Homo sapiens: one gene and its partner. The protein of the gene in region 1 purifies or fractionates together with the protein of each later gene. This does not show direct contact. Each region holds a gene or a part of one and is shown in the gene's direction. Other genes may lie near its edges.

Region 1 (3,500 bases):
CTATGTCTATAAAACTTGTCTCTTAAAAAGTAAAGTTTTTGCCAGATGCAGTGGCTCACACCTGTAATCCCAGCACTTTGGGAGGCTGAGGTGGGCAGATCACGAGGTCAGGAGTTCAAGACCAGCCTGGCCAACATAGTGAAGCCCTGTCTCTACTAAAAATACAAAAATTAGCCGGGCATGGTGGCGTGTGCCTGTATTCCCAGCTACTTGGGAGGCTGAGGCAGGAGAATCGCTTGAACCCAGGAGGTGGAGGTTGCAGTGAGCCGAGATCATACCACTGCACTCCAGCTTGGGCAATAGAGTGAGACTTCATCTCAAAAAATAAATAAAAAATAATAATAATAAAATAAACTTTTTGACTCTCTGTTGTTCTGTCTACAGTTTTTCTGGGTTGGCTCACCAGCCACACTTTATTGGTTCCCATATTGTCTTCTTTCTTTTGTTGCTTTTCCTTTTGCTGGAGAAACTCCTCAGGTGAATTTTTTATATAGGTCTCACGGATAGTCAAATTTCTGAGTTCTTGCCTGCTTTGAAATTTCTTCATTTTGCCCTTGTACTTGACTTGTTAATAAAAAAATAAATAAAAACCTGCCAAAAAGAAGAGATTTAAAACCATTTCACATGGTGAAACCTCGTCTCTACTAAAAATACAAAAAAAAAAAAAAAAAAAAAAAAATTAGCCGGGCATGGTGGCGGACGCCTATAGTCCCAGCTACTCTGGAGGCTGAGGCAGGAGAATGGTGTGAACCTTGGAGGAAGTGCTTGCAGTGAGCCAAGATCGCACCACTGCACTCCAGCCTGGGCAACAGAGCGGGACTCCATCTCAAAAAAAAAAATTTCCCTCAGAGATCTGAAGACATTGCTTCTTTGCCTCCTAGTAGCCAATACTGCCTCACCAGTCTTATCCTCAGACCATTCTGATATATAATTACTTCCTCCCCTTTTCTTCTTTTCTTCAGAACTCCTCCTAGATGCTGTTGGACCTCTTAGGTAGATTCTCCATCTTTAATAACATTTCCTTTGTATTTTCAGTATCTTCAGGATTTTTGATGTTTGTTTACATGCTACTATACAGCCCTTGTACAGAATTTTTTTATTGGAGGATTCATATTTGAAATTTCGAAGAACCAGTGCTTGTTCTCTGATTGTTGCTGTTCAAAATTATTTGGTTTGTTTTTTGTGTTTTTTTTTTTTGTTTTTATCTCTTTGAGGGCTTTGTTCTAATATATTAAAGTTCTCCTTTGTTCTTCGTATTATTTTTCCTTTCAAAGTCAATTGTTCTGTTTATTTCTCTTGCTTTTTCTCTTCAATGCTATTGATTTTTCTTAAGTGGTAATCCTTCGTTGCCCATTTTTATTTATAAATGAATGGCTGATAAATAGCTAGAAAGGAATCCTTCCCTAGCTTTAGTAGTTCTGTTTTCTGACAGAGCTTGCATAGGAGAGTCTGCTATGATCCCTGTGCAGATGGGTGGGGCATGTTAGAGTCATTTCCTGTGGAGTGTCTAGGCAGGGAGGAGTGAAGCTGGGAAATCCTACTATTACTAGAGTTAGGGCAAGGACACTTCAGTGTATGGTCATGGTTTATTTGTTTGTTTGTTTGTTTTTGAGATAGAGCCTTGCTCTGTCTCCCAAGCTGGAGTGCAGTGGCACAATCACGGCTCACTGCAGCCTCCACTTCCTGGGCTCAAGCCATCCTCCTGCTTCAGCCTCCCAAGTAGCTGGGGCTACAGGCATGGAACAGAACATCTGGCTAATTTTTTTATGTTTTATAGAGATAGGGTCTCACCATGCTGCCTAGGCTGGTCTTGAACTCCTGGGCTCAAGGTATCCTCCCAGCTTATCCCCCCAAAAAAAGATTTGATGCAAACACACTGAGTTAACTTTACTGAAAAGATAAAAATGGAAGAAAATATTTCAAAGAAAACAAAATATTTTCTACGTGCATTAATTAATTGATTATTAAATGTTCGATGTTTAGAAGACCTGCTAACAACTATATAGGTATACTCAAAACATTTTTGTCGAAATTTCAGAAATATTCATCGCAATTTGTCTCCAGGAATTCCAGTATCAGTACAAACAGAAGAAAGTTGGCTCCAAGATTTGTCTGATAAAGTGCAATCGAGTGAGTAGTTTGATTTCTTAGCTTTTCCTGGGAGGAGGGATTGCATGTTGGAAATATCACAGGTGTAGAAGGCCAGTACAGCTAGATTTGAATCCCAGCCCCAACACATACTAACCTTGTGATGTTGGGCAAGTTGCTTACCCTCTTTGAGTCTTACTTTCTTCATCTCTTGGAAATAGTCATATTGTCACAGGATTCTTATGAAGATCAAAATAAGATTAAATATTTTCAGTATTCAATAAATGGTAGCAATTATGTTCACATCAAGAAATAATCTGCCATTATATTTTTGATACATATCTTTATTTTTTTATTATACAAGTAACATATGCACACTTTTTAAATGTCAAACCACTAAGAAGTGGATAATGTAATAATTAAAACTTTAACTTTTCCAGTATATTTCCCTTCAGCTTTTATATTCACATTTTATTTTATGTCATTTATTCATCGACTGCTTACTGAGCACCTACCATTTGCCAAGCACCTAACATTTGCCAAACACCTATCATAGGTCTAGCCTATAATAGGGTATCAGCAGTGAAAAAAACAAGCAAATCCCCTGTCTCAGTGATATTAAAGTGTGGGAAGTGAAGGTGATGGCAACAATATAGAGAATAAATCAGTTAATATATAAAACATTAGATGATGTAAGTGCTAAGAAGAAAAGTAAAGCAGGGAAGGGGTTGGAAAGTGTCGGGGGTTGGAGGTAGGGTGCAAGTTTACACAGGGTGCCCAGAGAAATCTTTCCTGAGAATCTGAGGTATTTGAGAAAAGACCTACAGGAGGTGAGAGAATGAGCCAGGACAATCTCACAGGAAAGGTGTTCCAGGCAAGGGAACAGCAAGTGCCTCCTTCTAGAACAAGAGGCCAGTGTGGCTGCAGTGGAGTAAGCAGGGAGGAGAATCTTAGGGGATGAGATCACAGAGATCTGAGGACCAGATCTTTCTCACTGGGAGTGAGGTGGGAAGTTGCTGGAGAATTTGTGCAGAGAAGTGATATAATCCAACTGGTATTTTTAATGACTGCTGGCTGCTGAGAAAATATGAGGGCAAGAGCCCAGAGATTGAGCCCTGCAGAACTCCATTGTTAAGTTGGGGACATGAGGAAGAAACTAAGGAAAAGCATCCAGTGATGTAGAAGAAAAACCAGGAAGTGTCCTAGATACCAATAAAGTTTCAAGGAGGCAGGAATGATCAACAGGCTCAAATGATACTCAGAGGTTAGGAAGATGAGGACTGAGAACTGACTACTAGATCTAGCATGTGGAAGTCATTGGTGATGTGGATAGGACCAGCTTCAGTGTAACTCTGGGGATAAAAGCCATATTGGAGTGGGCTCAAAGGAGAGTGAAATAAGTGTAGAATAGA
Region 2 (3,500 bases), on another chromosome or scaffold:
ATCATGATGAAAACACTTTTCTGAGTCTGGTTGTGCAGCAGACAGATTTGCAGTGTCAGAGAGCTTGTGTTGGGAATGCAAGGGCTTTCTTTGCTAAAGATGTTTTTCTGCTGTTTTAAACACCAGGTGGTTTTGTCAGTTTCTTACATTGCAGTGATTTTTGAATGCGGGCTTCTGTGCCCCCAGTTCCGTGATTATATTACTCCTATGTTACTTCTCCATGTCCCGCCTTTTACCCCCACTACCCAAATTAAAACTGTCCTACTAAACTGTTCTGTTTCCTTAGCCATTTAAAATCCATGATCTGAACAGTTGATTTAATTTTTCGAATGATTATCTTCTCAATTTCTTTTGAATGCTGTAAGGTTCTGACTTGAGTGGATTTTAGCCTCCACTGGTCAAGGTTCCTGCCGCTGCCACTGCTGCTGCAGACACTGACATCACTATACTGCATGAATGAAAAACAACAACGTGCTCCATTTCTTCCTCTGCTCTCCACCTCCTCCTTTTTCTGCACACTTCAGTGTATGTGTGTGTGTGTGTGTGTGCGCGCAAGAGGGTGTTAAAACTGCGTTTGAAACTACACTTGAAAGCATTAAGTAGTTGATGGCTCAAGGGGTAGGTATATAGTATAAAGGCATATTGTTTATGAAAAGCTGCAAGGGCTATGGGCATTTCGACTAAAGGTGACATAACTGAGCATTCAGTGTTTCATGCATTTCATCTGGAGTGATGATTATAGGAGAAAATATGGAAGCTTAAAAATGTTTTTATGATTCTTTTACCAAAAAATTATGAAACCACTCAATTTCTAAATAAATTATATCATTATCTGCGTCTTAAGCATTCTTAATGTGAATATTTGTAGGGCTAAGGCTAGAGTAATAGAGAATTGATATTCAGATTGTTTCACAAGGCTGAGGAAAAGCTGAATTCTATAAATAGGAATAGTCAATTTTAATATTATTATAATATTAATTTATACAACCCAGGAAAAAATGATAATTTCCTTTATTTTTGTAGTATAGTTTTAAATAATTTAAATGGTTACCATAATAGAAATACGTAAATTGCCAAATACCTTGCTGTATATATAGCAGACATGGAGTTTTACAAATTGAAACTGTTTTGTTTGTGCTCATGCATCATCCTCTTTTTGCTTGTTTTTTTTCTTTTGTATTTTTAAAACTTCAAGGTTTGTTATTTACATTCATTCCTGTACTTCTGCCATTAGTAAAATGTCATCCTCCCTCTTGTTTGGTTCTGAAGGGTATTGCAGTGGTGAATGACAGGCTGCTGAATGAATCCTCAGGCTCCCTGTGATGTGTTTGTAATAGACGTAAAATCATAAAGTATTATGCAAATAGTTATTTTTTTGTAATGGTAATACATAAAGTCTACCTTTGAGATAAATAGAGCAACTCAAATGAGAAAAAGCAGGATGTTAGTGTTAAAATTAATGATCTTTAAGCTAAAATCATTAGTAACAACCAAAAGAAAATATAGTAAAGTTGCTTCTTTTTGAAACCTCACAGACCAGAACCCATGGATTTAAACATAGAACAAATACAGTTTTACTGTCCAAGATAGTAAGTAGGAAATGCAAATCTTTGTGTGCGTGTGTGTGTGTGTGTGTGTGTGTGTGTTTTGTAAAGATAGATCATTAGGATTAATTATAAGTTCTAAAAGATGTAAAAACAGTCATATTTAGAATACTCTGGATGGAGAATACAGCTTATTTTTAAGTGTACCAAATCTGATAACAAAAACATGGAAGAGCTTGTAATTTATATAGCTCCTGTTTTGAAAAATAGCATATGTTAGTTCCTGATTTAACATATCAGGTTTATTTAGGCCTAATACTCTACCAGATTGCTAACTCTAGAGTGAAATTTGATTAGACTTTTTCATGAGTATCTTGAGAGCCTCATTGTTTTATACATAAAGAAGTTATGATTCTATTCTAAAAGATAATGCAAATATAATGTTAACTCCATGTAATATATGTTTGCCTGTGTTCATTCATTTGCTTTCAGTTTTTCTCTTTTCCTTAAATTTATCTTTTTAAGTCATTTTTATACTGTGCTCAATGGAATACAAAAAATTTTAATAACTTTTTCTCTTTTAAAAGAGATACTCAGATATTCTCTTTCTATAAAGTTTTATTCTCAGGCTATTCTTGAAAATTAAGATCCTCCCTTTCCATTTTAAAATTAATTAATTTTCCTTGAGTGCTTATAGATACTTGTTTCAAAGCTTTCTTCTACATTAATGTTTTAGCTTTTTCTAAAGAGACAGGTTTCACATACTGACTTTTGGGAAAGGTTTTCATTCTCAGAAAACTATGCTAGAGAGCAGCAGTGTTCATTATTTACAGAACTATTTTTTTCCATCAGTTATCTCATGGTGCCTAAAATTTCTAGATCAATCAGTGAATAGCAAAATAGATAAATGAATTTATAGTTATTTAATCAAAATCTATTGTCTTATGTTCAAAGATTATATTCCTCTCAAATAACTGTTATTGTAAGCGTATTGAATATTGAATACCTAGCATGTGTAAATCATCTTAATCAGTTTTTAACTGTATGTAAAGTTCTGTGTGTATATATCGAACTGGAAATCATTTTATTAATTACAGTACTTTTTACAGAAGGACTGCCGTGTACGTTTCTGTAAGGACTTAATGCAAATTAGGATTTGTACTTTGGGGAAATGTTGAAGGATAATGGCGTCCTTGTGATTTTTGTTTTACTTGTGATAAGTCAGACTACATGTGAATAAGAAAATAAGGGAGTAACTGGGCTCCACAGCAGTGAGTGGAATGGAAATAAATGACAGTGTTCAACAAATGGCTAGTCGGAGAGGGTTTTCCTTAGTCTGAAATTTTAAAAAATTCTAAAAGTCTGTTTTATTAAAATGTTCACAGGTAGTTAATAATCTGCCAAAGAGTATAGTCTAATGACTTAGTTCTTCTTAATTTTAGTTTGGTCTTTTCTCCAGAACTTAACATTTCCAGACACCACTAAGATAGACTTTCTGGCAGCCCCTGTCCTAGTCTGTGTCTGGCACTGCTTTTTGTCTTCAGTATATAATTTATTCTTTTATTAAGTGTCTAAGAAGCTAAATCACTGACACTCTTTTTGTGCTACATACTGTTTAATTATTTTAACGAGAGGTTGAAAATATCTAACTTCTGGTTTCTGCCAAAAGTAAGTGGAGGAAAGGGAACACAAGTACTCATATATTGATATAGAAAGCCTAGGGAACTGATGGAAGGCAGATACTACCTGTATTTCCCTCTGCTCTTCATTTGGACCCTTGAAAGTGACCATAAGTTGACTCATCATTTGGCTATTCTGGAAGAATTTTTGTGCTTATTCTGAAAGACAAATTATAATGGATTAGCAGTAATTCTGAAAAATCTAAGGATTTTACTTACGAACAAATTGTGGAAAAGTATTTCATTGTAGCATGAACAAACATGGCAGATACCTTTA

The links.
Region 2: the proteins of ERICH6 (region 1) and GLCCI1 purify together in Homo sapiens (affinity purification with mass spectrometry; one large-scale study listed by BioGRID and IntAct). This does not show direct contact.

The regions. Positions count from the first base shown.
Region 1 is NC_000003.12:150,697,421-150,700,920, reverse strand, and holds part of ERICH6 (glutamate-rich protein 6), read left to right. Parts: intron 1-2,038; coding exon 2,039-2,130; intron 2,131-3,500.
Region 2 is NC_000007.14:7,971,796-7,975,295, forward strand, and holds part of GLCCI1 (glucocorticoid-induced transcript 1 protein), read left to right. Parts: intron 1-3,500.